Linked DNA regions of Homo sapiens: all the other regions are linked to region 4. The links come from fine-mapping of genetic effects on gene expression. A gene starts in region 4. Each other region holds a variant in brackets. All regions are shown on one strand. Distances are between the middles of the regions.

What was found.
Region 1: its variant is fine-mapped to the expression of OMA1 in whole blood (INTERVAL, PIP 0.98).
Region 2: its variant is fine-mapped to the expression of OMA1 in whole blood (TOPMed, PIP 0.94).
Region 3: its variant is fine-mapped to the expression of OMA1 in whole blood (TOPMed, PIP above 0.99).

What each region holds. Positions count from the first base shown.
Region 1 is chr1:58,584,852-58,592,732 of GRCh38, reverse strand. No RefSeq gene overlaps it. Among named protein-coding and RNA genes, the nearest start is that of TACSTD2, 12 kb to the right of the region's middle. RefSeq lists enhancers at 1-156, 7,443-7,881 and a silencer at 6,082-6,376. The variant TC/C (reference allele first, on the strand shown) is at 4,378.
Region 2 is chr1:58,521,605-58,529,485 of GRCh38, reverse strand. OMA1 (OMA1 zinc metallopeptidase) reads left to right here. Exons shown (of 9, transcript NM_145243.5): 7 at 2,151-2,225. It also overlaps a transcript of DAB1 not described here. Among named protein-coding and RNA genes, the nearest start is that of OMA1, 21 kb to the left of the region's middle. The variant G/T (reference allele first, on the strand shown) is at 4,605.
Region 3 is chr1:58,571,184-58,578,596 of GRCh38, reverse strand. TACSTD2 (tumor associated calcium signal transducer 2) reads left to right here and starts at 1,345. Exons shown (of 1, transcript NM_002353.3): 1 at 1,345-3,164. The coding sequence starts at 1,441. The coding sequence ends at 2,412. RefSeq lists enhancers at 1,187-1,881, 1,882-2,577, 4,428-4,517, 4,668-4,867. The variant G/A (reference allele first, on the strand shown) is at 3,049.
Region 4 is chr1:58,544,806-58,549,805 of GRCh38, reverse strand. OMA1 (OMA1 zinc metallopeptidase) reads left to right here and starts at 3,080. Exons shown (of 9, transcript NM_145243.5): 1 at 3,080-3,103. It also overlaps a transcript of DAB1 not described here. RefSeq lists enhancers at 2,642-2,831, 3,045-3,671 and silencers at 3,232-3,331, 3,342-3,431.

The sequences.
Region 1 (7,881 bases), 41 kb before region 4:
GTTCCCCTCATTAATCAGCCTGCCCAGTCCTGCTCTATCAGGCAGGCTGCCAGGCATGCAGCTGGCATGGGAGCTCCCAGTTCAGGGGCTGAGGTAGGCTTTGCTGTTTAAGAGCATGAACTTCAGAGACAAAAACACCAGGGTTTCGATCTTGAATCCATCCCTTACTAGCTGTAGGATCTTGGGCAAGTTTCTTATCTGTCTAAGCCTTGACTTCATCAGATGGAAAGTGGAGCTAATAACAGCACCTAAATTCACAGTGTATTTGTGAGAATAAGATAATCCTTGAGCCTATATCACAGAGAGTTCAATAATTGTTGAGTCTTATTTTTCTACTCAAGGACTTCTCTTGCCTTTTGGCAGGTTCTGAATTTCTCTGGGATGGAGCAGAAATAGAGGGAGGGAAAAGGAAGGGAATGTGGCATACACTGAGAACCTGTGTCACATCAGATGCTCTGGTGGCATGTCTGCATAACATTAGCCCCATCTTCCAGTGGAAGGAATGCAGATGGTAGAATAGAGAAATCTGGGTTGGAATCCAGGCTCTGAAACTCACTTGCTGTGTGAGTCTGGGCAAAGATCTTCCCCTCTGAGCCTCAGTTTCCCACCAATTGTGGCAGTATCTACTTGGTATTCATGCCATATGGATTATATGAGCTAACATCATGTAAAAATGCTTAGGCAGATGATGCTCAGTAAATGTGCGTTTCTTCATTCCCAAGGGGACAGCTGGTTGACAGAAGGACTTGAATAGAGAGAGGAAGAACATGAGGACATGCCAGAAGGGAGTACCCTTTGGGCATCAGGATGCTGGAGGGGACACACTTCTCTAACCCCCCTGAGAACTGGGCTGCTATAAATGGCATGAGTAGACCTCTCCTTTGGGCTGGCAAAAAGACTCAGATGGCTGGCTCCCTCCCTCCCCAACCTTTCTGGGCCCAGGGCATGGGAGAGGATGGTAATGACAGAGCAGAAAGGAGTCCAAACAACAGTTATAAATGTCAGCACATCTGGATTTTGGCTCTGGCTCTAGCATTTATTAGCCATATGACTTTGGACAAGCCCTCGTGATCTCCCTGAGCCTCAGTTCCCCATCTAAAATGGGGATAATATCAGGTATCTTCTGATTATCTATTGTGGCATCACAAACCACCCTAAACCTTAATGGCTTACAACAATTATTACCTCTCAGGGTTCGTGTTGACTGGACTCAGCTGGGTGGTTCTTGCTTGGGGTCTAGCGCAGCTGCAGTCAGAGGCCCCTGGGGCTGGACTTATCCAAAGGCTTGACTGGGCTTGATGTCCAAGGTGGCTTTTTTACTTACCTGGGCTGGGAAGGCTGCAAGTCTGGACGCTGGTTGGACACCTCTCTTGCCATGTGTCATCTCTAGCTGGGACTTCTTCTTAGAGTAGTCAGACTTCTCACAAGGCAGCTGGCTTCCCATAGAGCATGCATGCCAAGACGCCAAGGCAGAAACAAAATGGTTACCTGTGACCTAGTCTTGGAAGTCCCTTTGTGTCACTTCTGCTACATTCTATTAGCTATAAATGAGATATGGGCCCAGCCCAGATTCAAGGCGAAGTGAAGGGAGGAGTGTCAAAGATTTTTCACCATCTTGAACCCACCACACCACATATCCCATGTACCTCGCAGGGCTGTTGTGAAGGTGAGTAGCAATGGCATGCATGAAAGCCCTTAGTGTAAATCATTACAGAGACATGAGGTTATTGTTCCACGTCCATCCTTTTCTCTCTTCCCTAAATCAAGCACTCATCCATCCTTTCTATCCTGTACCAGTAGCCTCCAGAGTAGCCTCTTTGCCTTTTGTGTCTCCCTGTCAAATTTATCCTCCACAAATGCCTGCCTATATGTCTATCCCAGGTGAAAAACTATCACTAGCTTCACGATGTGGCTCTCACTTACCCGTGCAGGTTTGACTGGCCATATGCTCCCAATCCCCCGCCATATTACTCTGTTCCAACCTTTGGCACCTTTGCTCACACCATTCTTTCTTTCCAGAGCTCTCTTCTCTTTCCATTTCTGCCCACACTCCAACCCTTCTGGTTAAACCTGTCCTCATGTTTTAAGATACCCTGCAAATATCATCCCTTTGTCCAGCTAACAACTCTTGCCCTCACTACTGCTGCACATACCTGTTGAATTCAAATTCCCCCTCTGTGTGCTCCCCTAAATCCTGTGTTCACTGCAGACTGGTCTCGCCGTTCCTCAAAGGGCCAAGCACAGTCCTGACTCAGGGCCTTTGCACGTGTTGTTCCCTCTGCCTGGGATGCTCATTTCCTAAATATTCACTAAATATCTGGCTTCCTTACTTCATTCAGGTCTCTGTTCAAATCTTGCCTCTCAGAAAGACCTGCCTGACCAGCCAATCTAAGATAGCACAGCCTCCCTCACTCTCCCACCCTGTAACCTGCTTCTTTTCCTTCAGAGCACTTGTCATCTGTCTAGGGCCCATGCAATATGGGGCTGCAAGAGCCAGCTGTGTGAATCACTCCCAAATTGGCACTCAGTGACACCATGTTGATAGCTTGAAATTGGTCACAGGGAGAGTACACTAAGGCCCCTCCTGCCCTCAATTTAGAATCTCTGATGGAACTCATCACCTTCATCTCACTTAACAGGGATAGTGAAATGGCTGGTTCAAGGTCACACAGCCAGTTAATGAAAACATTAGGCAATTTGGTTTTAAGAAGGAACTCAGAAACCAGTTGCTTGAGTTCAAATCCTGACTTCACCATTGACTAGCTACTTGAAAATCACCAAAGGCTACAAATTAGGGTACTTTCTTTTTTCTCCTGGAGAACTTGTTTTCAAACACCTATGTGCATACTATTCTGTGTTTATTTCATTTATTGTGTATCTCTCTCACTAGATCATAATTTTTGCAAAGGCAGAGGCTTTACTAATGCTTAGTCCCAGCATCTAGTGCCATGCCTGACACAAAGTATGTGCTCAATAATGTTTGTTGAATGAACAAACAAATACGCAAACCAACCAATGAGAAACAATAATCACATCCAGTTGTAAACTGAGTCTTTGAAAGAAGACATTGGCTCTCTTTTCATCTTTTGTGCTCAGCACACAGCCTGGCACATAGAAGGAGCTCAAGGAATGTTGATAAACAAGAGAATACCCTCTGAAGACGGCTGCATCTACATCAAATCCAGCTGCTCTCTGATAAGCATAAAAAACTGCACCAGACAACTCCACTGGTATTTCCATTATGCGCCAAAGAGAAACCTGCAGGAACTCAGGCAAGAAAAAAGCACTGGCCTGGGAGGCAGGAGCCTGGGTTTTTAATCCCAGCATAACTGTGCCTGCTATGCGGCCTCAGGCAAGTCACTTCTCCAACCCAGGCCTTAATTTTCCTATTGGTAAAATGGGGTGATTGGAAGTAGATGATGGGGTCCCTTCTAACTCAGAGCTGTGGTTGAATTTATGTCTGGATCTGCCCCAGGCAGGGCTGCTCTAAAGTAGCAGGAGGTGGCTGATGGACAGAACTGGCCTTCTACAGGTACAAGAGGCAGGATGTGGCCAGGATGCCACAGCTGGAAGATAGCATAGTGCTCCAGAGTCTGGGACACCTCAGAGCTGTGGGATGGGCCCCTCTCTTCTTCTCCGGTCTCTACCTCTGCCCAGAAACCATTCCAGCTCCTCCCGCCTGTCTTCATATGGCACCTGACTTGAGGCTTCCCTGAGAACAGTTAGAGCATTGGCTGCTTTACCTACTGGAGCAGGACACGAATAGGAAGGCTCTGATACAGGGAGGAGCACGGAGACGCGTTACATCTTGGTAACTTTGGCTTGTGTCTAAACAAACAGGTTGGCTAAGTTGGTCAGCCCGCACCTTGTTTCCTGTTATTTATGTTACATGGAGCATAAGCAGTTCAGAGCAATCGAAAGAGCCCTGATTTGGATAATAGAAACTACCATTTATTGAGCATTTATTGTGTGCCAGGTGCTGCTTTAAGCTAAGGGTCAGCAAACTACACTGGCCAAATTCTGTTTTTGTGTGGTCCATGGGCTGAGACACTTTTAAATTTTGAGACAGGGTCTGGCTGTGTCACCCGGCTGGACAAAATCACAACTCACTTCACTGCAACCTCCGCCTCTTGGGCTCAAGCCAACCTCCCATCTCAACCTCCCAAGTAGCTGTGACTACAGGCACATGGCACGACGCTGGGCTAATTTTTGGATTTTTTTAAAGATGGGGTTTTGTCATGTTGTCCATACTGGTCTCAAACTCCTGAGCTCAAGTGATCCACCCTCCTTGGCCTCCCAAAGTGCTAGGATTACAAGTGTGAGCCATCGAGCCTGGCCGAGATGTTGTTTACATTGTTAAATAATTATATAAGTACT[TC/C]ATAATTATCTTGATTTGTTTTTTTTTTTTTTTGACAGGGTCTTGCTCTGTCACCCAGGCTGGAGCACAGTGGCGCCAACAAGGCTCACTGTAGCCTCGACCTCTCAGGCCTAAGTGATCCTCCCACCTCAGCTTCCCAAGTAGCTGGGACCGCAGGCACACACAACCACACCTGACTAAATTTTAAAGTTTTTGTAGAGATAGGGTTTTGCCATGTTGCCTGGCTGGTCTCGAACTCCTGGGTTCAAGCCACTGCCCGCCTCAGCTTCCCAAACTGCTGGGATTACAGGCATGAGCCACCGCACCCAGTCTCATCTTTAATTTTGATCCTTAGCACACAAAGCCTAAATTGTTTATCTAGCCTTTAACTAACTAGTTTGCTAACCAACCCCTGCTCCAACTTTTTTTTTTTTTTAACATGGATTAATTCCTAATCCTCACAATAACCCTGCAAAGTAGGTTAACTATTATTATCCCCATTTTACAGATGAGCAAATAGAGGCAGGGGGAGGTTAAATGATGTATTGAGGTCAAATCGCTAGTAAATGGCAAAGGCAAAATTTGAACTCAGGCAACTGGTTTCTGAGTTCCTTCTTAAGACCAAACTGCCTAATGTTTTCACTAACTGGCTGATGATCTTGAGCAAGTCATTTCACTGTCCCTGTTAAGTGAGATGAAGGTGATGAGTCCCACCAGAAATTTAAAACTGAGGTCAGGAAGGTCCTTGAAATGAATTTCAGGGAGTCTGTGACTCTGGAATCTGTGCAAAATATACTGTCTTTGTGCACAGTTGCATTATTTGAAGAGAGAATCCATCACTGTCTTCAGAAATGGATTCTGTGACTCAAAACAGAACTACTGGACTAGCTTTCTTGGAAGGCTATCTCCAGCCTTAACATTCTTCAATGTTATTTATTTGGATTTTTTTCCTCATGTGCTATCTGTTTAGGTTGTCTTTTCTGCCTAAATGTTATTTATTTCAGATGCCTTTTAAAATGCAAATGTTATCTATTGGATTGTATTTGCTCCCACCTCCAAATTGCTACATACTCATTACCTTTAAAAAATGAGAAAAACAGACAACCTTAAGAGCCAGTGAGGTTTTTCTACTGATGTATCCTGCAACTCTATATAAATAATCTGTATAAGTGGAGAGGACAGGAGATATGGTTTATAAATCCATATTGTAGTTATTCATATGTTTCCATGTTATTTATTTAACAAATATGTACTAAACCCCCACTAGGAGGTAGTTGCTGTGTGCACTGTAACCTCCATGGAGCCAGGGGTTAGGTGTAACTTGCCATTGTACCTCCTCAGCCCAATACAGACCTGGCACCTGGGAGGCACTCAGTGAGGATGCCTGCCTGCCTGCCTGCCTGGCTGAAGAGACGGATGAATAGAAGGCTGGAAAGTATATGAAAAATCAGTAGTGTGGGTGGGGAAAGAGGTTCAGGGTGCTGAGCAATTTAGTTGTGTTGGTTTCTGGTACCTTCCAATTGGCAGCCTCCCATGATCTTGGAGAAGCTTTTGAGGGCAGTCCTCATTTTCCCATCAGTCATGCTTTGAAAGATGCTAGTTGAAGATCAGCTGACAGAGCCAGGACTTCTCACATGAATCCAAAGAAATTAATCCATTTTCTTACATCCCACTAAGGTCAGAGGAACAACAAGGACTTTCTTGCCCTTTGTCTTGGGCCCACACATCCCAGAATTAGAGAACAATGAAGTCTCCTCTTTCCTGCCTGCCTCATTCTTCCTAGACTTCTGAACTTTTCCTCTCTCCCACTCCTCCTCGCCTCTACTTCCATCCCTGGTGTGAGTCTTGTGACTCATGACGGCTGAGAGTAGGAGTGCAGTTGAGCCCCTCAGCACACTCAGCCCTGGACCGATGTGACTGGAGATGTCTTGAGATGGACAGGAACAGGCGCAGGGAGGAGCAGGAGGGTAAGCCATGCCAGGGATGTAGCTTGGGTATTAATGTCTGTGGGAGGGGCAGCACAAGAGCTAAGGAGAGCATCTTCTACCAGGGAGACTGAAAGGTTCTGTTCTGCTTTCTTGTTTTGAACAAAACAAAACAAAATTCACCTGCACTAGGCTGTACTGTATTCATCTGCAGTGTCCATAATACTTGTCTGTCTTCCCAAAAGGAGAAGATAGCAAAACTTACTATCCATACCATCTAAAGGTAGTAAGTTGTCGGATAAAATCAAAGCCTTATCCTTACTTGGATTCTCTTGAGAGGCCATTTTTGATGTTCTGATTCAGCATGAGTAAGAGAGGTTAGGGTATAACTTGAACTTGTATACCAGTGAACTTCTATACTACCATGCTGGAGTTTTAAACATGTTGGGTTCAGGAAATTTATATGGTCTGTAGCAGCATGATGTCACAGAAAAAGCATAATCTCAGAACCAGGCAAAAAGGGGTGTGAGCTGGGTGCAGTGGCACGTACCTGAAGCCCTAGCTACTTGAAGCTGAGGTGGGAGGATTACTTGAGCTCAGGAGTTGAGGCTGTAGTGAGCTATGATTGCATCACCGCACTCTAGCCTGGGCAACAGAGAGAGATCCTGTCTCTAAAATATGTTTAGAAAAGAATGTGAATTACAGCTGTTCCATTTACTATTTGTGTATTCTTAGACAAGCGCCCTTCTGCCTGTTTCCTTATTTGTAAAGTGAGAATAACAAAACCCACTCCCTTCAGATGTTATAGGGATAGAGGAAACACATGTTGAGTTGCTGGCTGGTAATAGGCTCTCAATACAGTGTAGATATTTATTGTAAGTATTGCCCAGAAACCATCTGTTCCTAGAAAAGAGGAAATTGATAGATAGGTAAGGGGCTGTTAGGGTTACTCCTGCCTTCCTAGACAGGGGAGTAGAAAGGCAAGACAACAGGAGTAAAACCTCCTCAAAGCTTCCCTAGAATCCTCTGCTGGTATCTCTCATAATGTCATTTGCTGGGCTGGGCCACTGGTGGAGATGGTGCTTGCCACCACCTAGGGTGTGAGGTTGGCACAGGAGGAAGGATGACGGGATAGGGACGTTCCACTAGAGAAAGGCAATGGAAGAGGCAGGGAGAGAGCAGGAAAGGGGAAAGTCTGGGGACAGGAGAACTGGCTTCAAATTCCTGAGGAACCAAGGAGTGAAAGGGGAACATTACTTACTCTTTCTTGCTCCAAGAGTAGAAATTTAGATCAGTTTGTGAAAATTACAGAGGCACTGAATTTCCTTAATTATGATGAACTTCTTAGTAAAGCTGCTTGGGACTGGAATGGGTTGTCTTGTGGGGAGGTAAGGATGTTGCATTATCACAGGTAGCCTACAAGCACCTGTTTAGCATTCTGAGATACCTCTCTTTGGGTGGGAGACTGGAATACATGTCCTCTAAGACCCCTTTTGATAACTCTAAGGAGCCTCACTTGGATCAGGACTGTCCAGAAAGGCAGACGAATTTGTCAGTAGCAGCAGCCCACTTAAGACCTCTCACCACCTGCCCTTATCT
Region 2 (7,881 bases), 22 kb after region 4:
GTATAATAATCATCTCAAAAATGTATTGAGTGCCTCATTTTGTCCAAAACACTGTAATACTGAAAGTAGGTCTTGCAATCTTTATAACTACTTTGTTAACCATAATTTTTTTGTTTTACATCTTTCTTTGAATATTTCCTCTTGTCCCAGGAGGTTTGGTTATTTAGGAACAATCTGTTATTTGTTTATTTAATGATTTGTGGAGTTCCCATCAGAGTGCCATCTGGGTGCTGTTTAAATCTAATGTGCAAAATTCTATGAGACAAATTGTTTTTGAGATTGGATAACTAAGTCTATTATTCAGTATTAACATGTCATTTGGCTTCATTTATATTGAAGTAAAGGTTCTTAAAGAGAAAATAAAAGATTGGTTATTCCTTAGGTTGTAGGATCTCATATTTTGAATTTTGTTTCTGTCACTGACCCGCCAGGAAATTAAAAGAATTAATGTGGTTATTTTCCTGATCTATCTATAGATTGCTTTTTTTTATAATGGAATCAGCACAGTTGGTCATAAGAAAGATAACATTTATCTATTTCTTTCTTGAAATACTTGATAAATTCTGCCACTTCACTGTAATTCGTCAATGAAAATAAAGTAGGAATGATTCTATTTGAATTATTTTTTCCTAAATCAAGGCCCCTCAATAATTTTGGTGACGAGGAGATGTTTCTCTCTAGAAAGTTGCTCACTGTGATTGGAGAGCAGAGAGGAATGTTGATAGTGAAGTCATTAGGGTGTGGGAATTGCTGAGGTTCATCTGTTGTGAGGACCGAATGACACATTTAAAGCAGGATTTCTCAATCTCAGCACTACTCACACTTTGGACTGGATAATTCTTTGTTGTGGGGGAGTTGTCCTGTGCACTGTAGGATGTTTAGTAGCATTTCTGACCCCCATTCCCTAGATGTCAGTAGCTCTCCCTCCTCTCAGTTATGACAGTAATAAATATTTCCAAACATTTGTAAATGTCCCTGGAGGACAAAATCACACTAGGTTTAGAATCATTAATTTAAAGCACTTAGCACAGTACCTGGCACAAATCAGGGCTCAATAAATATGAGCTGTTATTTTTGTTCATTTAATCCCCTCTGCAGCTCTGTGAGCTTGGAACTGTTACTAGCTTCATTTTACATATGATACTACTGGGTTTAGCAGGGTTAAACAATTAGCTCAGGGTTAACAATAAGTTAACAGTATTTGGACTTGAACTTAAGTTTCTCTCTTTTTAAAGCCACAGTTTTAAATCCTTATGTTATCAATAGACTTGACGGGGGCACATGCAGCCTGCTCATGGGGAGTGAAGGCATTATATGATATACATCATTGACCTAAAACAGACTGATTGAAAAGGAAGGAAGTCATTTGTAATGGTCACATACTGTATATCAGATTTATTATATTATTTCAGGCCATCACAGACATGTGGCTACCTTTGAAAGATTGCTTCCCCAATTAATAGCTCTTTTCTCAAAAGTCCTGCCTATTGATTCATCTCCTACAAAGTTTTAGTACTTACTGAAAATTAGAATTTAACTGGAAAGCATTCACATAAATACAAGTAATTAGGAAAATTAAAGTTACTGTATCTATGTGTGTTTTTTATTGAAGTCAGAAGAAAATTTCATTTTCCCAACTAATCAATACTTAGAAAAGAAAAAGGAAATTAAGATAATTTATCAAAGAAAGAGCATTCTGCTATATGGTTAATTTTTTTACTGAAATAAATTGTCTAGTAGTGTCATTGGATATTATATGCCTACGTTTTCTTGATTTTCTTTTAAAACTCAAGGTCAAAATATTCCTTGACCATATTAAAAAGCCTTCATCAATAAGCTTTCTTAGTGAATCCTGTACTCAGTAGGTGGAGACTATAATTGGAAAAATAGAAGTAAATTCCTTATACTACAGACTGTCAAGAAATTTATAGGCATGACTTATATCCTTATCATTTTTTAAAGTATTTCTAATCAGGGAAATAAAGGCTGTGTTTATATTTTATATCATGGAGTTATTTTAATGTTAGTAGACAGTATAGGAATTTTATCCTAGATACTCCATGAAACTGTTTTTTAAAAATCTCTCTGTGTTACTCCTTTTTTCGTGAAATAAATTGTCTTAATGGAGCTTTTCTGTCATTTCTTCTTAGTATATGTTTAATAGACCATACAGCAGAAAATTGGAGGCCGAAGCTGACAAAATTGGACTACTGCTTGCTGCAAAGGTAAAGTGTTTAGTAGTTGAGAATACATAATGCCCTTCCCAGGCTGAAAGATAAACGTGTGTTATTTTAATGAGGCTTGGCATAAGCAGAGAATGAGAGTTGGACTGTATTAGCCCTTTATGTAATTTCTGTTAATCTAGAAATTTGAAGATTATGGACCTTGAAAGAATGTATAACTGAAGAGTCTCAATTCCCTTCTATATTTGAAGCTGTATTATGCCTTAGACAGAATCCATAAGATTATAGTAATTATCAGGTTCTATTAAAAGAAAGTCAGTTCTTGATTGGAAATAATTTTTTGCGTGTATAAATTTTTTGATCATAGACATGAAACATACAAATTGAAATTTTAAAACATTTGGTTATGTAATGTGTCATCCCCTCTGGCCTTTTAACATTTGTCCCTCTGGAAAGCTAATGCTATCTCTTTATTTTACTCCAGTACTCCAATATTTTACCCCTTGCTTCTCTGATCTAAGGAGGCTTTTTGAGTAAACAGGTTGATAGGTAGTTGTTTTCCCCCACTTGAAGATAGGTTGATCCTGTTGTAGCTATGATCTTGGCTAAGCAAACTGATTTTCTACCATTTAAATAAACAGTAGACGAACAGACATTTAGGTTATTTTTGTTGTAGCAGATGGCTTTTTTTTTTTTTTTTTGCTAGCCATAGAGAGCAGCTCTGGGCCTTTACTTTTATTTAAGTTGACTTTGTTCCTGTCTACTTAACAGGGCACCTGGCAGCTATTTTTAATCACCTGTGATAACTGAGTGTTATTAGTAGCATTTAAGATTAGAAGTAAAACTGCATTTTAAAAAAATGAGTGAAAGCAATGCCACTTCACATATTAAATTCAAGTTTTAATTGATCCTTTGTTATGTTTCTGGTAGTTATTAAAACTATTAATCATTTTATTTGAACCTCTCATAAGTTTTATGGATTTAATTTCATAAATCAAGGTATTACTCCTTCACAAAAGCAAAATCAGTTCTTTGAATGTTAAATAAATGTGATTAAGTGAATTATCAGACTGCGTGCACTAAGAAGTTCCCACATAAGGGGGCCACAGATTGGCTGTATTAAGAATTTCCTAATTTTCATGTACTCCAGTCTGTCAGATTTTCCCTATATGTTAAGTGTGTTCTGTGTTCTGGTTAGGAAATCTTTGTTTATCTCAGTAAGTTATTCCTGCTTTATTTCTAATAAACTTTACTATTTTTAAAATATATAATATGAGGAAGAGGGCAACATCTTTTTTTTCCCCTATGGATAGCTAATAGACTCAGCACTGTTTATGGAAAAAAGTCACCTTTTTTTCACCAGACTTCAGTGTCTCTTTGTCATAAAGGTGGGAGTATATCTGGGGTCTCTTTCTAGACACACTATTCTGTTCCATTGGCTTGTTTATGTTTCAGCCAGTACCATATTATCACTATAACTTTGTAGTAAGTGTTGATACCTGAAGCTTCTGTCCTCCAGTGTTGTTCTGCAGAATTGATTTGACTCTTCTTGGATCTTTGCATTTCTATATACATTTTAGAAATAGCTTATTAAATTATACATACATAGAAAAACACATGGGGTTTTGATTGGAATTGCATTGCATTTATACATGAATTTGGGGACACTTGACTAGTGTCTGTAGTATTGATTCTTCCCATCCATAAATATGATATATTTTCCAGTTTGTTTAGATGTTTAATTTTTCTCGATGTTTTGAAATTTTTTTGTATGTAGGAATTACACATCTTTTGTTAGATTTATTGCTAAGTGTTTGATGTCATGATAAATAGTGTCATTTTTAAAGTAAATTGCTTGTATATAAAAATACAATTGATTTTATAATTGACCTTGTACCCAGCAACCTTTATTTCTTCCTTTCCAATCTGTATACAGTTGACTCTTGAACAGCATGTTTTTGAGCTGTGTAGATCCACTTATACATAGGATTTTTTTCAATAAATATATTGGAAGGTTTTTTGGAAATGTGCAACAATTTGAAAAAACTCACAGGTGAACCATGTAGCTTAGAAATATTGAAAAAATTAAGAAAAGGATATGTCATGAATGCATAAAATACATGTAGATATTAGTCTTTTATAATTTTTTACCATAAAACACAAATCGGTTATGAAAATTTATCAAAACGTGTGCCTACACAGACCATACATGGTGCCATTTGCAGTTGAGAGAAATGTAAACAAACAGAAAGATGCAGTATTAAATCATAACTGCATAGAATTAACTGTGGTACCTATGGTACTACTCTTATAGTTTTGTATTCACTTCCTGTTGCTAATGCAGTGATCTCAAATATTGTGAATATCTACTTAAAACACCAGAAGACACTAATCATCTCCATGTGAGCAGCTTTCTCTCCA[G/T]TAAATTGAGTATCTTAGTAAATGGTCTCTTGCAGTTCTTGCATATTTTTCATTGTGTTTAGTGCAATACTGTAAACACCTTGAGTAATACCATGAGACCCATATGAGTTGCTGCTAGTGATACTGGAAATGTTCCCAGGAAGTAAACTCATGATATTACAAGAAAAAGTTGAGTTGCTTGATATATACTGTAGATTGAGGTCTGCAGCTGTGGTTGCCTGCCATTTCAACATAAACGAATCCAGAATAAGGACCGTTGAAAAAAGGAAAAGAAAATTTGTGAAGTCATAGCTGCAACTCTACCAGCAAGCATGAAAACCTTGCACTTTTTGCAAAAGACTTTTATCTTGTATAGAAGATGCACCTTTTATGTGGGTGCAGGATTGCCATAAGAAAGGCCTATCTATAGACTCTAATATGATTCAAGAAAAAGCAAAGTCATTATATTACAACTTAAAAGGAAGATGAAAGATCTAAAGCTGGAGAATTTAATGCCAGCGAAGGATGGTTTGATAGTTTTAGAGATTTGGCTTAAAAATGTCAAGATAACAGGAGAAGCAGCTTCTGCTGACCAAGAGGCAGCAGATGCATTCCCAGATGCTTTAAGAAAATCGTTAAGGAGAAAGAATAGCTGCCGGAACAGGTTTTTAATGCAGATGAAAGTGTGCTATTCTGGAAAAAAGATAATGCCATAAAGGACATTTATTAATGAGCATCAAGATTTAAGGCAGAAGGGATATGCTAACTCTACTGTTTTGCGGAAATGGAGTTGGATTTGTAAGTACTTTCCTTATCTATAAAGCTGGTAACCCCTGAGCCTCTAAGGAAAAAGATAATACCAGCTGCCAGTCTTTTGGTTGTAAAGCAAAAAGGCCTGCTACACAATGAGAACGCTTTTTCTGGATTGGTTCCATCCATGCTTTGTTCCTAAAGTTAAGAATTATCTTGCCAGTAAAGGCTGCCAGTTCTTTTTTTCTTTTTTTGAGATGGAGTCTCGCTCTGTCACCCAGGCTGGAGTGCAGTGGTGTGATCTCGGCTCACTGCAAGCTCTGCCTCCCAGCTTCACACCATTCTCCTGCCTCAGCCTCCCGAGTAGCTGGAATTACAGGCACCCACCACCATGCCCGGCTAATTTTTTGTGTTTTTAGTAGAGATGGGGTTTCACCGTGTTAGCCAGGATGGTCTCGATCTCCTGACCTCGTGATCCGCCCTCCTTGGCCTCCCAAAGTGCTGGGATTACAGGTGTGAGCCACTGCGCCCGGCCAGGACTGCCAGTTCTTTTTACATTCTCAATTCCTCTGGTCACCTGGAACCCCATGAGTTCAACACTGAAGGCGTCCAAATGGTCTACTTGCCCCCAAACACAACATTCCTAGTTGAGTCTCAGATCAGAGGGCCATAAGGACCTTTAAGGCTCAGTACAACAGGGTACTTTAGGGAAAGGTTGTTACTGCTATTGAAGAGAACCCCGATAGAACATTATGAAAGTCTGTAAGGTTTACACCACTGAAGATTCCATCATTGTTATAGAAAAAGCCATGAAAGCCACCAAGCCTGAAATAATAAATTGTTGATGAAGCAAACTATCCAGATGTTGTGCGTGACCACACAGAGCCAGTCAAGGAAATGATGAAAAGATTATGGATATGGCAAAAAAGGTGGGGAGTGAAGGGTTTCAATATACAGATCTTAGAGAAATTCAAGAGCTAATAGAAACACCTTATCAGGGGAATTAACCGTGGATGACTTGATGGAGATGAGTGCTTCCAAAATGGTGCCAGGTAGAAAAGACATAGTAGTGCCAGAAAACAAATTGACATTAGACAATCTAGCAGAAGGATTCTGATTATTCAAGACTACTTTTGACTTATTTTACAACAGAAATTACAAAGTATCTCCATTAAGTTACACTGATTATGCCTGCCTTTCCTGTCTCCCGTTCTACCTCTGCCACCCCTGGAACTGCAAGACCAACTCTCCTCTTCCTTCTCAGTCTACTCAGTGTGAAGATAAGGATGGAGACATTTATGATGATCCACTTCCACTTAATGAATAGTAAATATATTTTCTCTTCCTTATGGTTTTCTTAATAACATTTTCCTTTCTCTAGCTTATTTTATTGTAAGAATACAGTATATAATACATATAACATACAAAACATGTTAATTTACTGTGTTACTGGCAAGGTCAACAGTAGGCTATTAGTAGTTAGGTTTTGGGGGAGTCAAATGTTACATGTGGATTTTTGACTGCACAGAGGGGTCAGTGCCCTTAACCTCCATGTTGTTCAAGGGTCAACTGTACTTTTTAATTTTTGCTTTATTGCAATAGCCAAAAACTTTAGTACAAAGTTGGTGATGGGCAACTTTGTATCTCCCTGATCTTAGGGGCAAGAAAGCATTCAGTATTTCACCATTATGATGTTTGTTGTAAGCTTTTTATAGATACTTTTTTATCAAATGAAAGAGTTTCTCTTCCATTTCTAATATCCTAAGATTTAAAAAAATTATGTATATATATTAAATTTTATCAAATGCATTTTCTGCACTTTTTCTTCAACTTTAAAGTTCCAGGGTACATGTGCAGATGTGCAGGTTTGTTACATTAATAAATATGTGTCACAGTGGTTTGCTGCACAGATCAACTCATCACCTAGGTATTAAGCCCAGCATCCATTAGCTATTCTTCCTGATGTTCTCCTTCCCCCTGCATTTTCTGCCTGTATTGAGATGATTATATGATTTTTCTCCTTTAATCTGTTATTGGGCAAATTACATTAATTTTTTTTAAAGTTAAGTTGCATTTTTGGGGAAATATACCTAATTTTGTCAATTATCCCTTAATATATTGCTAGAATTGGTTTAATGCTTAGTTTAGAATGTTTATCCTATGTTCAAAGGAGATAGTCGCCTAGAATTTTCTTTTCTTGTAATGTCCTGTCAGGTTTTGGAATCAAAGTTATGCTGGCCTCATAAAATTGATCAGGGAAGTGTTCTTCATTTTCTCTTCTCCAGAAGAGTTTTTGTAAGATTAGCTATATTTATTTTTTAAACGTTTGGAGAATTCCTGGGTAAAGCCATATGGGCCTGAAGATTTCTTCATGAGTTTGTCTTTAATTATGGATTCAGTCTCTTTAATAGATATAGAACTATTCAGATTTTTCTATTTCTTGTTTCAGTTTTTGTAGTTTTTCTAGGAATTTTTGTTTAATTTTCAAAATCATTGGCATGAAGTTGTTTTAATATACTCTTATTATATTTTAATGTCTGAAGGATAC
Region 3 (7,413 bases), 28 kb before region 4:
AAAAAAAAAAAAGAAAAAAGAAATTGTCCCTCACATGTCTCTGCTTCCTCTGTCTGTCAAGGCAGAATATATTTCAATCTTCCTGCCTCAGGAATTGCGTGAAAATTAATGGGACAGAGGCCCAGCTGGCTTTCATCTGCTAAACAACACCCTTGCACGACTGGTGGTGCACATTAAATGCTGAACATATAAAATGTGCTTTGATGGAGGACCTGGGAATAATTATAGCTTGCTAATTATTGTTAATTTTACCACAGCTTTGAAACTCTAGACTTTCTCAATGACTCAAAAAGAGATTGCAACCCCTGTATGCCATGAAACTAGCCACACAGTGGCAGACAAGCAATTTCTCACAGGCTCCATTCTTTCATTATTTACATGGTTCAGCTACTTACGTGGGATACAGGAAAAGAAAAGCAACGATTTGCTGTGTTAGAATCAAATTGTACAAAAAACTCTTTACAGTCTTGCTGGCTCTTTAAGAATTTGTTCCTGTTTGTCTCTTTATAGCCAGTGCACAAATAAATATTATGTGCGTGTGTGCCTGTGTGTGTGCGCTTGTGTGAGGTACAGAAAATTAGTGTTTAACAGAACTTTTAACCCTCTGGACACCAGGATACCTGTGTTTTACCCTTGATATGGTGAGTAACAGAACTGCTTCCCTAACTTCCCTTCAGATTCTGTGTCACTTCGTGTCCACAAACACTTTATTTAAGGTCTCATCACTCCTAGGCAGGGTGCCAAAGACCCCTCTCAGAAATATGAGGAAGTTGATAGCAGTGTGACTTCAGGTCTTTAAGCCTCATCAGTACCACCTATAAAACGGGTCTGATAGTCCCTACCTGTCAGGACTGGTGTTAGGATGAGATAATGTTTGTGAACTGTAAACTATATAAACGTGTGCTACTGTGAGAACTGGACAAAGAAGAGAGGGAGTGAGAGAAATTAAGGGAGGGCTGGGGCTGGGAAAGAACGAAAAGGGAGTCGCGTATAGAGGAGAGCGCGACAGTCGCGAGCCACACTTTGCAATGAAACTCTTTAGACTTTCTGCCGGGAGAGCGGCCCAGACGCGCCAGGTCTGTAGCAGGAGGCCGCGCCGAGGGCGGGTCCCCAGAAGCCTACAGGTGAGTATCGGTTCTCCCCTTCCCGGCTTTCGGTCCGGAGGAGGCGGGAGCAGCTTCCCTGTTCTGATCCTATCGCGGGCGGCGCAGGGCCGGCTTGGCCTTCCGTGGGACGGGGAGGGGGGCGGGATGTGTCACCCAAATACCAGTGGGGACGGTCGGTGGTGGAACCAGCCGGGCAGGTCGGGTAGAGTATAAGAGCCGGAGGGAGCGGCCGGGCGGCAGACGCCTGCAGACCATCCCAGACGCCGGAGCCCGAGCCCCGACGAGTCCCCGCGCCTCATCCGCCCGCGTCCGGTCCGCGTTCCTCCGCCCCACCATGGCTCGGGGCCCCGGCCTCGCGCCGCCACCGCTGCGGCTGCCGCTGCTGCTGCTGGTGCTGGCGGCGGTGACCGGCCACACGGCCGCGCAGGACAACTGCACGTGTCCCACCAACAAGATGACCGTGTGCAGCCCCGACGGCCCCGGCGGCCGCTGCCAGTGCCGCGCGCTGGGCTCGGGCATGGCGGTCGACTGCTCCACGCTGACCTCCAAGTGTCTGCTGCTCAAGGCGCGCATGAGCGCCCCCAAGAACGCCCGCACGCTGGTGCGGCCGAGTGAGCACGCGCTCGTGGACAACGATGGCCTCTACGACCCCGACTGCGACCCCGAGGGCCGCTTCAAGGCGCGCCAGTGCAACCAGACGTCGGTGTGCTGGTGCGTGAACTCGGTGGGCGTGCGCCGCACGGACAAGGGCGACCTGAGCCTACGCTGCGATGAGCTGGTGCGCACCCACCACATCCTCATTGACCTGCGCCACCGCCCCACCGCCGGCGCCTTCAACCACTCAGACCTGGACGCCGAGCTGAGGCGGCTCTTCCGCGAGCGCTATCGGCTGCACCCCAAGTTCGTGGCGGCCGTGCACTACGAGCAGCCCACCATCCAGATCGAGCTGCGGCAGAACACGTCTCAGAAGGCCGCCGGTGACGTGGATATCGGCGATGCCGCCTACTACTTCGAGAGGGACATCAAGGGCGAGTCTCTATTCCAGGGCCGCGGCGGCCTGGACTTGCGCGTGCGCGGAGAACCCCTGCAGGTGGAGCGCACGCTCATCTATTACCTGGACGAGATTCCCCCGAAGTTCTCCATGAAGCGCCTCACCGCCGGCCTCATCGCCGTCATCGTGGTGGTCGTGGTGGCCCTCGTCGCCGGCATGGCCGTCCTGGTGATCACCAACCGGAGAAAGTCGGGGAAGTACAAGAAGGTGGAGATCAAGGAACTGGGGGAGTTGAGAAAGGAACCGAGCTTGTAGGTACCCGGCGGGGCAGGGGATGGGGTGGGGTACCGGATTTCGGTATCGTCCCAGACCCAAGTGAGTCACGCTTCCTGATTCCTCGGCGCAAAGGAGACGTTTATCCTTTCAAATTCCTGCCTTCCCCCTCCCTTTTGCGCACACACCAGGTTTAATAGATCCTGGCCTCAGGGTCTCCTTTCTTTCTCACTTCTGTCTTGAAGGAAGCATTTCTAAAATGTATCCCCTTTCGGTCCAACAACAGGAAACCTGACTGGGGCAGTGAAGGAAGGGATGGCATAGCGTTATGTGTAAAAAACAAGTATCTGTATGACAACCCGGGATCGTTTGCAAGTAACTGAATCCATTGCGACATTGTGAAGGCTTAAATGAGTTTAGATGGGAAATAGCGTTGTTATCGCCTTGGGTTTAAATTATTTGATGAGTTCCACTTGTATCATGGCCTACCCGAGGAGAAGAGGAGTTTGTTAACTGGGCCTATGTAGTAGCCTCATTTACCATCGTTTGTATTACTGACCACATATGCTTGTCACTGGGAAAGAAGCCTGTTTCAGCTGCCTGAACGCAGTTTGGATGTCTTTGAGGACAGACATTGCCCGGAAACTCAGTCTATTTATTCTTCAGCTTGCCCTTACT[G/A]CCACTGATATTGGTAATGTTCTTTTTTGTAAAATGTTTGTACATATGTTGTCTTTGATAATGTTGCTGTAATTTTTTAAAATAAAACACGAATTTAATAAAATATGGGAAAGGCACAAACCAGAAGTCGGCATTTGTGAAAAGTCCCTCCAGATTTCTATCACATTGGTCTCTAATTTCCCAAGACTTGTATTTTTTTTTTATTTCAAATTATAACACTTTTTTTTCCCCCAGAAGTGGGTGTTTCATGTTGCTACTCTGGTGTGTCCTAAGATATCCTAACTGGCCAGTGTAAATGCTATTCTTTCTAAATAAGATTATTTGGAAACTTCCTTCAAACTGCAGGAGGGTGAGCTTGAGGGAGGAAGCTAAAACTAGCTGCTTTTATGAAAAAGAGTGCCAGTCTTTGGTCATCTCTAAACAAGGCTTATCACCAATGGAGACAGAAAACTCTAGTTCAAGAGCTGTACCTCCTTTGAATCCCAGCCCTACTTTGAAATAAGTGGTACTATTTCCATTTAGCCTTTGAGCAAATCACTTAATCTCAAAGCGTTGTGGCTCTAAGATTAAACGACTTTCCCACATAATTAGAGCCAGTCTGCAGTGGGCCCTACACTTTTGCTGGGTGTGCACAGGCTGTTTTCCTAAGACTTTTACTTATTACATATATTTTTTGAGATGGAGTCTTGCTCTGTTGTCCAGGCTGCAGGGCAGTGGAGTGAGCTCAGCTCACTGCAACCTCCACCTCCTGGGTTCAAGCGATTCTCCTACCTCAGCCTCCTGAGTAACTGGGATTACAGGTGCCCACCACTATGCCCAACTAATTTTTGCATTTTTAGTAGAGATGGAGTTTCACCATGTTGGCCAGGCTGGTCTTGAACTCCTGCCCTCAGGTGATCCACCTGCGTCGGCCTCCCAAAGTGCTGGTATCATAGGTGTGAGCCACTGCACCCAGGGATTTTTACTATTAATGTGCTTTAAAGATATGTTTTACCTATTAGCTGTAAAAACTAGCCACTTGTCCCTCTTACACTTATCTCTTACTTTTCAGTCATTCACGTTCATTTATGTGTGTGACTGTGGGGTACCCCACAAGTAAACAAGTTACTACAGTAACTGAGAAACTGATACAACACTAGGTGTGTACAAAGGAAGGGAGTGGTTGGTATATCACATATTCAGCAACAGCTAAGCTAGATCCAGGACTGCAGTTTCTTCCCCTGGAATCCATTTCATGCCCCTCCTCCCATCCTGTTTCTACAGTCTATGAGGACCTCCCAAGACTGAAACACCAGTAAGAATTGGGGAGAGATAGCTCTCAGCTACTGGCTTCTCAACTTAGGGCTGTGGCTGCTATGCGCTGGTGGAGTGGATACTGTGGGATTGCCAGAGATCTCAAAGTCTGCTGCCACTCATCAAGGGAGAAACTCCTCCAGGCTCCAAACTTCCTTCCAGGGTCAAATAAGACTTACCAAGGGGAGAGGGTGGATGTGAGCAGGCTCTCCTACAGTAGGAAGGGTGGCCCAAGTACCTGAAGTTAGAACTGGCTCTCTAACAATGAGAGTGAGACTCCCCACTCTAGGTCTCACTGGGTGCTTTCCACTTCTGAGTCACTGAAGTGCTTTGACGGAAGTGACCTTGGTGATCACCTGTGACCTAACCCCGCATTTCACACATGAAAAGAGCAAGTGAATTCTCAAGATTAATGTTTCTGTAGCACAGCTGGAACCAGAAAGCCTCATTGTTTCAAGAGTCACTTTTAAAAACTCACTTGTCTGCCTGGAAAATAAAGGATCCAGTGGGCAACTGAACAAAGCAGACTCCCTGAAAAAGCCCCTTACTCCATCAGAATGTTGCTTCTGGATGATATTTAGGTTTCTGCATTAATTCAGGACTGTGACTTCTTGCACTTTATAGCATTTATAATTTGCAAAGCGTTTTCACACATATAATCTTCTTTGAGCCATTGACTTACTGGAAGTAACCCAAATGTTGACAAACCTGAGGTCAAATCTTATTCCTTTGGGTCAGGAAGTCACTTACCTCCCCTGTTTCCTCATTAGTTAAATGAAACTATAAATCCCTCTCTCGCTATTATGAATATTAAATGAAGTAATTGATATGAGCGTCTGAAACAATCTGGTGCTTAGTGAAAGTTTCATGTACTTTAAATTGTTTAGATTACATCCATGTCACATGTCAGCAAACTGAGATTTGAAAGACATTGAGTAAATTCATGAACACACACCCTGCATATACCAAATATGGGGCTTGGGACTTTTGCCTTGTGTAGCTAAGATTTTTACTGTTAATGTGCTTTAAAGATGTGTTTTACCTATTAGCTGTAAAAACTAGCCACATGTCTCCATTATACTTATTTCCTCCTGTTCCTGCTGGGTAGCCAGCAGGTTAAGATGCCTTTTTTTACTCACTTCTTCCAAGGAAGAGCCCCCTCATGCTTCTGTTCTGAAAATCAGCTTTCCTCTGCTGGGGTCGGGTCTTAAGAACCAGCTATCTTCAGGGATTGAGCAGCTGCCTCCAAGATTCCACCCACCTCCCCACCAAAAACAAACAAACAAACAAACAAAAAAATACCTTACAGTTCACTGGTTCACTGCCGAGAGCTCAGACCTGGGGCTGCCCTTGGAAGGAATGTGAGGAGCAGGTGTGGCTTGCCCAGCAAGTTGCAGCCTGCCTTCTGAGCCTCCTGAGGACACTTGACTGATTTCCTTGTGTAGGTCACCAGGGCTTTATCCATTCTGTTTCTTTTATTGAAGCATTTTTTTAAAGATCACCCATTCCTCCCTCTGCTTACAAATTTTTTGCTTACCATTTTCCAAGTGGAATCACAGAATGTTATGTCAGAGCTGGAAAAAGCTTAGAGAGTCATTTAGTTCAACATTCTGATTCTATAGATGAAGACACTGAAGCTCATAGAGGAGAATGGATTTACCCAAGTCAGACAGAGAGGGGCAGAGCCACCCTAGAGCTCTAACACCCTGACTCTATCCTGTCTGGTGTTCCACTTGCCTCCCTGGTTAGTCTCCTGATGATGTATTTAGTAAATAGTCACTCTTGTTAGAACTAGAGGAAGGTCCCCCAAGTTCTTGGGGGAAAAATACTAGTAATGAGTGAGTTCTTTCTAATGTAATGTGAACAGAACTTCCACTCCACTTTCTGAAGGAGATATCTCTCCATAGACTTCTGCTATTAGAGGAGGCTAGAACAACCTTGGAAGCCTCCTGTTTATATAAAACAAAGGACCCTTTGAGACCTGAGTAGATTTCCTTTACAATTACTAGCAGGTCGTGGTGGACATCTTCCAGCTGTAATTTCCCTCCTGGAACCATTCCCTGTCATTGCTAAATATCATTAGAGGTTTCATTATAGCCTTTTATAGTGAGCTCAAAGAAGGAATTGTTGGGAGGGATGGGGATGGATGGGGGGCTGGGCCCATTCACTATTAGGGAATTATACTGTAAACAGGGGGGTTGTGTCCCCTGGCACTGCAGCAAGCCATATGTCATCAATTTCAGTGGAAATTCTTAGGTTCATGATGTACAAGGAGGCCAAATTGATCTGGGTAAGAAGGGAAAGATAAATGATCCACAGTGATAGCCTGAACATGTTAACCAGCAGTTTATCAGCAGGCAGCTCAGCTTACCAAGGCATCTTGTCTCCTTGCAAGGAAAGGGATCTTGACTAGATAAGCATTAACTCCTTGGAATCCTTGTGCCCAGCTTTCTCCCATGCTGGATGTAGCTGATCTCTTAGGTGGCCTCAGCACTCTCCACTCCCTTGTTATCTGATACTGTTGGAGGAAATGTCCTGGCCACCCAAATATTTTTATGTGAAGCACATTGTCATATGCAATTGAAGCAACATAATACAGAAGGTGGGAAAAGGTACTAAACTATGCCAGCAGATGAGTCTTCAAGTCCTTGTTCTTGCTTTCCAGCTGTATTATCTTGAATATGGCAGTTCACCTCCCTGAACCTCACATTTGCATTATAAAATGGGTCTAGTAATATCCACTCACTCTAGCTCATAGAGCTCCTGGCTCCTCATCTGACCTCAGTGGGACTGGGGTGATCTCGACTAAGCAGCCAGTTTGACCAGTGTTGGCTCTAGCTGGAGTGCAAAGGCCCCAGTGATTGTGAGCAGTTACCCTGAAGCAGGCACAAGTTGGACAGTCTGTGTCCTCAGAGATGCCTAGCGTTGGTCATTTATTTGTTCCCTCAAATATTTTTTGTCTTATTTGATGCCAGATATCATACTAGTTTGGGGAACATATGAATTGAACAGATACGGTTTCTCTGCTGCTCTTTTTTTTCTTACTTGGCATCCCCACAATGTTTTCAATGG
Region 4 (5,000 bases):
AAGGAACTACCTAGCGTGTACCAGCAGGAGCCAGGAGAGGACCCCTGGAATGGGATTTCTGAAGGTGCTTGATCAAAGTGGGCAGGAACTGTGGCGGGATTGATAAGGAATCAGAGATACCAAGAGGTTGAGGAGGATTTATTATTTAGGTGCACCGGCCCAGTCGGATTAACATCCAAAGGACTGAGCCCCGAACAAAGAGTCAAGTTACCTTTTAAGCATTTTATGGGGTTGGGGGAGATCTGTGCAGGGAGAAGCATGTTACAGAAGCAAGAAACAAAGACAGTTATTTAATTAATTGAGGCATGCATTACATCATTTCTTACTTTTCAAGGAAAAACGTGTCTTAATGGCTTGAGTTTATCTGTCTAGTGACCTTGCAGCGCACAGCTAAAGAAACAGGGTCTTTACAATGCCTGGGAAAGGGAGAGATAAGGCTCACTAGCCACAGAAAAACAGGCAGTTAATATTTAAAGGACTCCAGCTCTTTCTCTTTCTCGGGGGGAGGTGGGTTTTCTTACATAGAACTGAGTTTCTGTTTACACATTCTTTAATTTCTTTTAATTCCTATTCCAGAACAAGCCTGGCTAAATAAAAATTCATTGTCTTGGGGGCACTTTCTTGGGACTTGGGACTGTAGAAGATGGGTAAACTCACTGCTAGGTGACTATTAGAAGCTGAGAGAAAGCCATAGTGCATGCAGAGTAAAGCAGGAATGCCCGAATTGCCCTTGCAAATGGTAGAAGGACAGAGGAGCTGAGGGAAGTGGACTTGCCTGAAAGAATTTTTTTTGTGTGTAGAGCCCGAAGGCAGACAGAGGGGAATGTTCCATGGGAGGCCCAGAGGATGCATCATATTCTATGGCCATGGGGAATGCACTGGCGTGAGGGGCACTAGCATCACTAAGAAGTTCAGAGAAGGCTCTCCTCTGGAGGGAAGGGCTGACGGTAGGAGAGGCAATCACAGGGCTGGGCTTGATAATATCCATTGGGATAACAGGATCCTGAAGTAGTAGAAGCCAGGTGGTGGCTTTAACCATGAGGACACCAGAAGATGTAATTACTGTAACATCTGCCAAGGGCAGAGGAGCAGCCAAGGGGGCTTGATCCACAGGAGGTTGTGGAGGGCTTTAATAGCATAAGGTCTCCCTAGGGGAAAAACAGACGGGCAGCCAACAAGAGTGTTGCCTAACATCTACAACTGGAGGAAGACAAGAAGCTATTTATCCTATGCAGGGAGTAGTTGCTTAATAAAAGGCACTGCTCATTGCTCAAGTCTCAGACCTGAGCCTATCTTCACACTGAGACCACAGAATCTGTTGACTTAAGAGGTTGTTGGGTCCCTATAAAGAAGAATCCTGCAATACTGAAACAAATATTTACTGTAATTAATGATTACTCTTTGGTCTGTGTCCCACGGCCATTTTCTTGACTGATTTTATGTTGAGGAAAGAGGAATACCCAGACATTTCACAGGTGTTACCCAAAGTATGTAACACACATGGCTCCTCTCTAAGTGTGGGGGCTTATGGGGATCAGGTAATAAGCAGAGTCCTGGATAATGTCCAGCTTACAGTGGGTCCAGGAATACACTGACCCATCCAGTAGTCATTTTCTTAGTTCCTGAGTGCATAATTGGGAGTACATATTGGGCAGCTGGAGCAATCTCCACATTGGTAAGAAGCTCAGGGTCCTTGGTCTTGAGTTATCATGGTGGGGAAAGCCAATGGGAAGCCTCTGAAGCTGTCCTTCTTTCCAAGTGAAGATAATAAATCAAAACCGATATTTCATCTGAGGGGATAGTGAGATGATGGTGGAGATTAATGTCATAATTAAAGACCTGAAATATACAAGAGTGGTTGGTCATCCCTGCCATATCTCTACTTAACTTGCCAGTCTGGCCCCTTTGGAAATCAGGTGGACCCAGGATAATGACATAATGGCTCTGCGCAGTCCAAAAGGAGCTGGATCAACTGGAAATTCCAGAGAACATCACACCCATCTATTTCACCAATGACATTATGCTAACCAGGCAAGATGAGCAAGAGGTGGCTAGCATGCTGGAAACTTTGGTAAGACATGTGCACTCCAGAGTTTGGGAGATAAACCCTACGAAGACTGAAGGACCTCCTACTTCAGTTTTTAGGGGTCCAGTTGTCAGGGGTTTTCCAGGATATCCCTTTCAAAGTAAAAGGCAAATCATAAAATACACATAAGATAAACGAAACAGTAACTTACACATTTTCCAAAAGAGATACCTAAAATTGTTCATAGTGTTTATGTCCTTTGACATAGTGTTTATGTCCTTTGAGATGTTTTCATTGTGCACAGAGTGTAAACATAATAAACTAATATGAGACCTCACTACTCATCCATCACAATCCAGTGTTTATTTGTACTGGCTTATTTGTACACTTTTATTTATTTGTGTTTATTTGTACACTTTTTTTTAATCGCCTGTCTTTCCTCACTGTGATATAAAGTTCACGAAATTCAGGTCTGTCTTGTTCACTGCTACATCCTTGGCACTTAAAATGTAGTTGATGCTCAAGAAATATGTTTTGGTGAAATGAATGAAACATACTATACACATAATTTTGGAGCCAGCTACTTTAACCTCCAGACACTTAAGATTATACTTCATCTTTCTTAAAATGCGTCCCTCCAAAAATCATATGAAAGCACTGTTCCCATACTCCAAAGACTATTTCTATGAATGCAGATTCAGAACCAGGAAGCCTTCGTCTTTTGGCAGTCTTCGAGTCTCTTCCCTTTTGGCCGGTACTGCCGTAGAGACTACAACGGACACAGCCTTGCGTGGATCATTCTTTAGAGGACCCAACTCACCAAAGACGGGAGAAAGTTGTTCCTAGGCAAGCAGCCCAGCCCAGGGCCATGTCCCGCCTTAAGCCACACGGAGGCGCTAGAGCGCCACAGTCTCCGCGGGGCCCGGGGCAGCTGGGAGAACGACTCTGGGCGGCTGTATTGACTGCCGGGTGTGGGCGGAGCGAAGGGCGCCCCGGCCGGTATGGCGGGCAGGAAGTGCGGGTGCGCGCCTGCGCATAGGTCGGGTCTGCGGTGTCACCGCTTTCGCTTCTGCTTGAGTCAGTCCTCACGGTGACGCTTTTCCCCAGCTTTTCCGAGTAGGATCGTGCCCAGGGGAGGAGGCAGAGTGCGGCAGTGGGGAGGGGGCGGAGCGCAGAGCGCCTGCGGGGGCGCCCGGGCAAGGAGTGGGGATCCTTGGGGATGGGGGTACGGGAGGAGGCGTGGGTGGGCGATAAGGCTGCGTGGAGGGGAGGGGCGGGGGGCGCCGGGGCGGGAGACGGAGGGGATCTGTCCTGGGGGAGCCCGGTTCTCCCCTAGCCTTGCCCGGGGCACGCCGGTGACCCCGTGTGTCTGCCCCGTGGCAGTACTTTCGTGGGCCGCCTGCCCTCCCCCTCAGCCCGCCCTTATCCGCGGCTCCGCTTTCAGAGCAGGGTTTCTCACCCGCGGGGCTTCGGGCTCCTCACCCGGCACCTCTGCCAGAGGGGACCGCCTCCCGGCGCGTCGGGCATTCGTCTCTTTCACCCCTTCCCTCTTCAGGAGAAACTGAACACGTTTTCCAGCCTAAACTCGGCAGGGCAAACCAGAACATTCCCCGTCTAAGCAGTTCCGGGGAGTTTTAACAATTTCCTCGTAAACTCGTCTACAGAACTCACTGTATACTGTTTAAATGTCGCCTGTGTGTGGAGCAACAGTTTTATTGTGCCGTGCAATCCTCAACAAGAAATTGTAGTCCAGGGAGATGAAAATCCCTTATTTGGCATTCAGGCGTTGATCAAGGTCGTGCAACCCTCGCTAAAAGGATTTAGGTTCATCTCCGTCATTCTCAGCCGGGGTGAAGGGGTGTAGTCTGACATTTGGAAGCTTAAGAACCAAGTCTGCTGCCGTCCAATTCTTTTTTAAAGCCTTCCATCATGTGTGTACTTTGCTTGAATGATTATTTTAAAGTACATGTCCTATTTTTGCCAATCTGACAGCTGTTTCCATAGAAACTAGAGAAGAAATAGTCATTTTCAGCAAGAGTTGTTAAAACTGTCTTCCAGGCTTCAGCTGTGAGTGCCAGTGAGTGCTGCACTTGCTCATTCGGAGATGGTACTTAAAGAATTAAGGATCTGAAATGTTCGTAGAGGCTAACAATCCAAATTGTTTAATTTTCTCACATCATTAATTTTGTTATCCTAGAAGTCTGCCAGCTATGTTTGTTGACCTGCCACAGCTCTTTGAAGAGAATATGTCAGCCCTGATTTTTTTTTTTCTTATGTGCTCTGTAGTCTAGTGATTGGCTCCTTGAAAATGCATGAATAGATTTCTTCCCTCATTCTTTACCCTTTCTTCAGGATAAACCGGGTATTACAAAATATCAGGCACTGTTTCTATTCAAAACGACACTTGGTTGTCAGTGATAGAAATGATAATGGTTTTAATTATATATGCGTAGTGTTGGGGCTTTTGCTTATACCTTCTGTGTCAATAGGATTCTTTTAAAATTTTTACACAAGTCATGAGAAATGAGAAGGAGTTTGCTTGTCATGTGCAGAGCTAAGCAGTGTGAATAGATGTGCATAGACATAGAGATGAGAGCTTTCTTTTTCTGTGGGGTGTAAGTAAATCAGGGAGTTTGGAATTTAGGAATGGGTGAAGGAGGGTTGGGGAAGGTGCCTGGAGAAGTAGTAGGAGGGCCTGGTTCGCCATATGAAGGAGTTTGTGGAAGCCATGGAAAACCAACGAAAGTCCAGGCGTGGTGGCTCATGACTGTAATCCCAACACTTCGCAGTGCAGTATGATCAGTTGAGCCCAGGAGTTAAAAACCAGCCTGGGCAACATAGTGACACACCGTGTCTACAGAAAAAAATTAAAAAATTAGCTGGGCTGGCCAGGTGCGGTGGCTCAGGCCTATAATCCCAACACTTTGGGAGACCGAGGTGAGCAGATCACTTGAGGCCAGGAGTTCGAGACTAG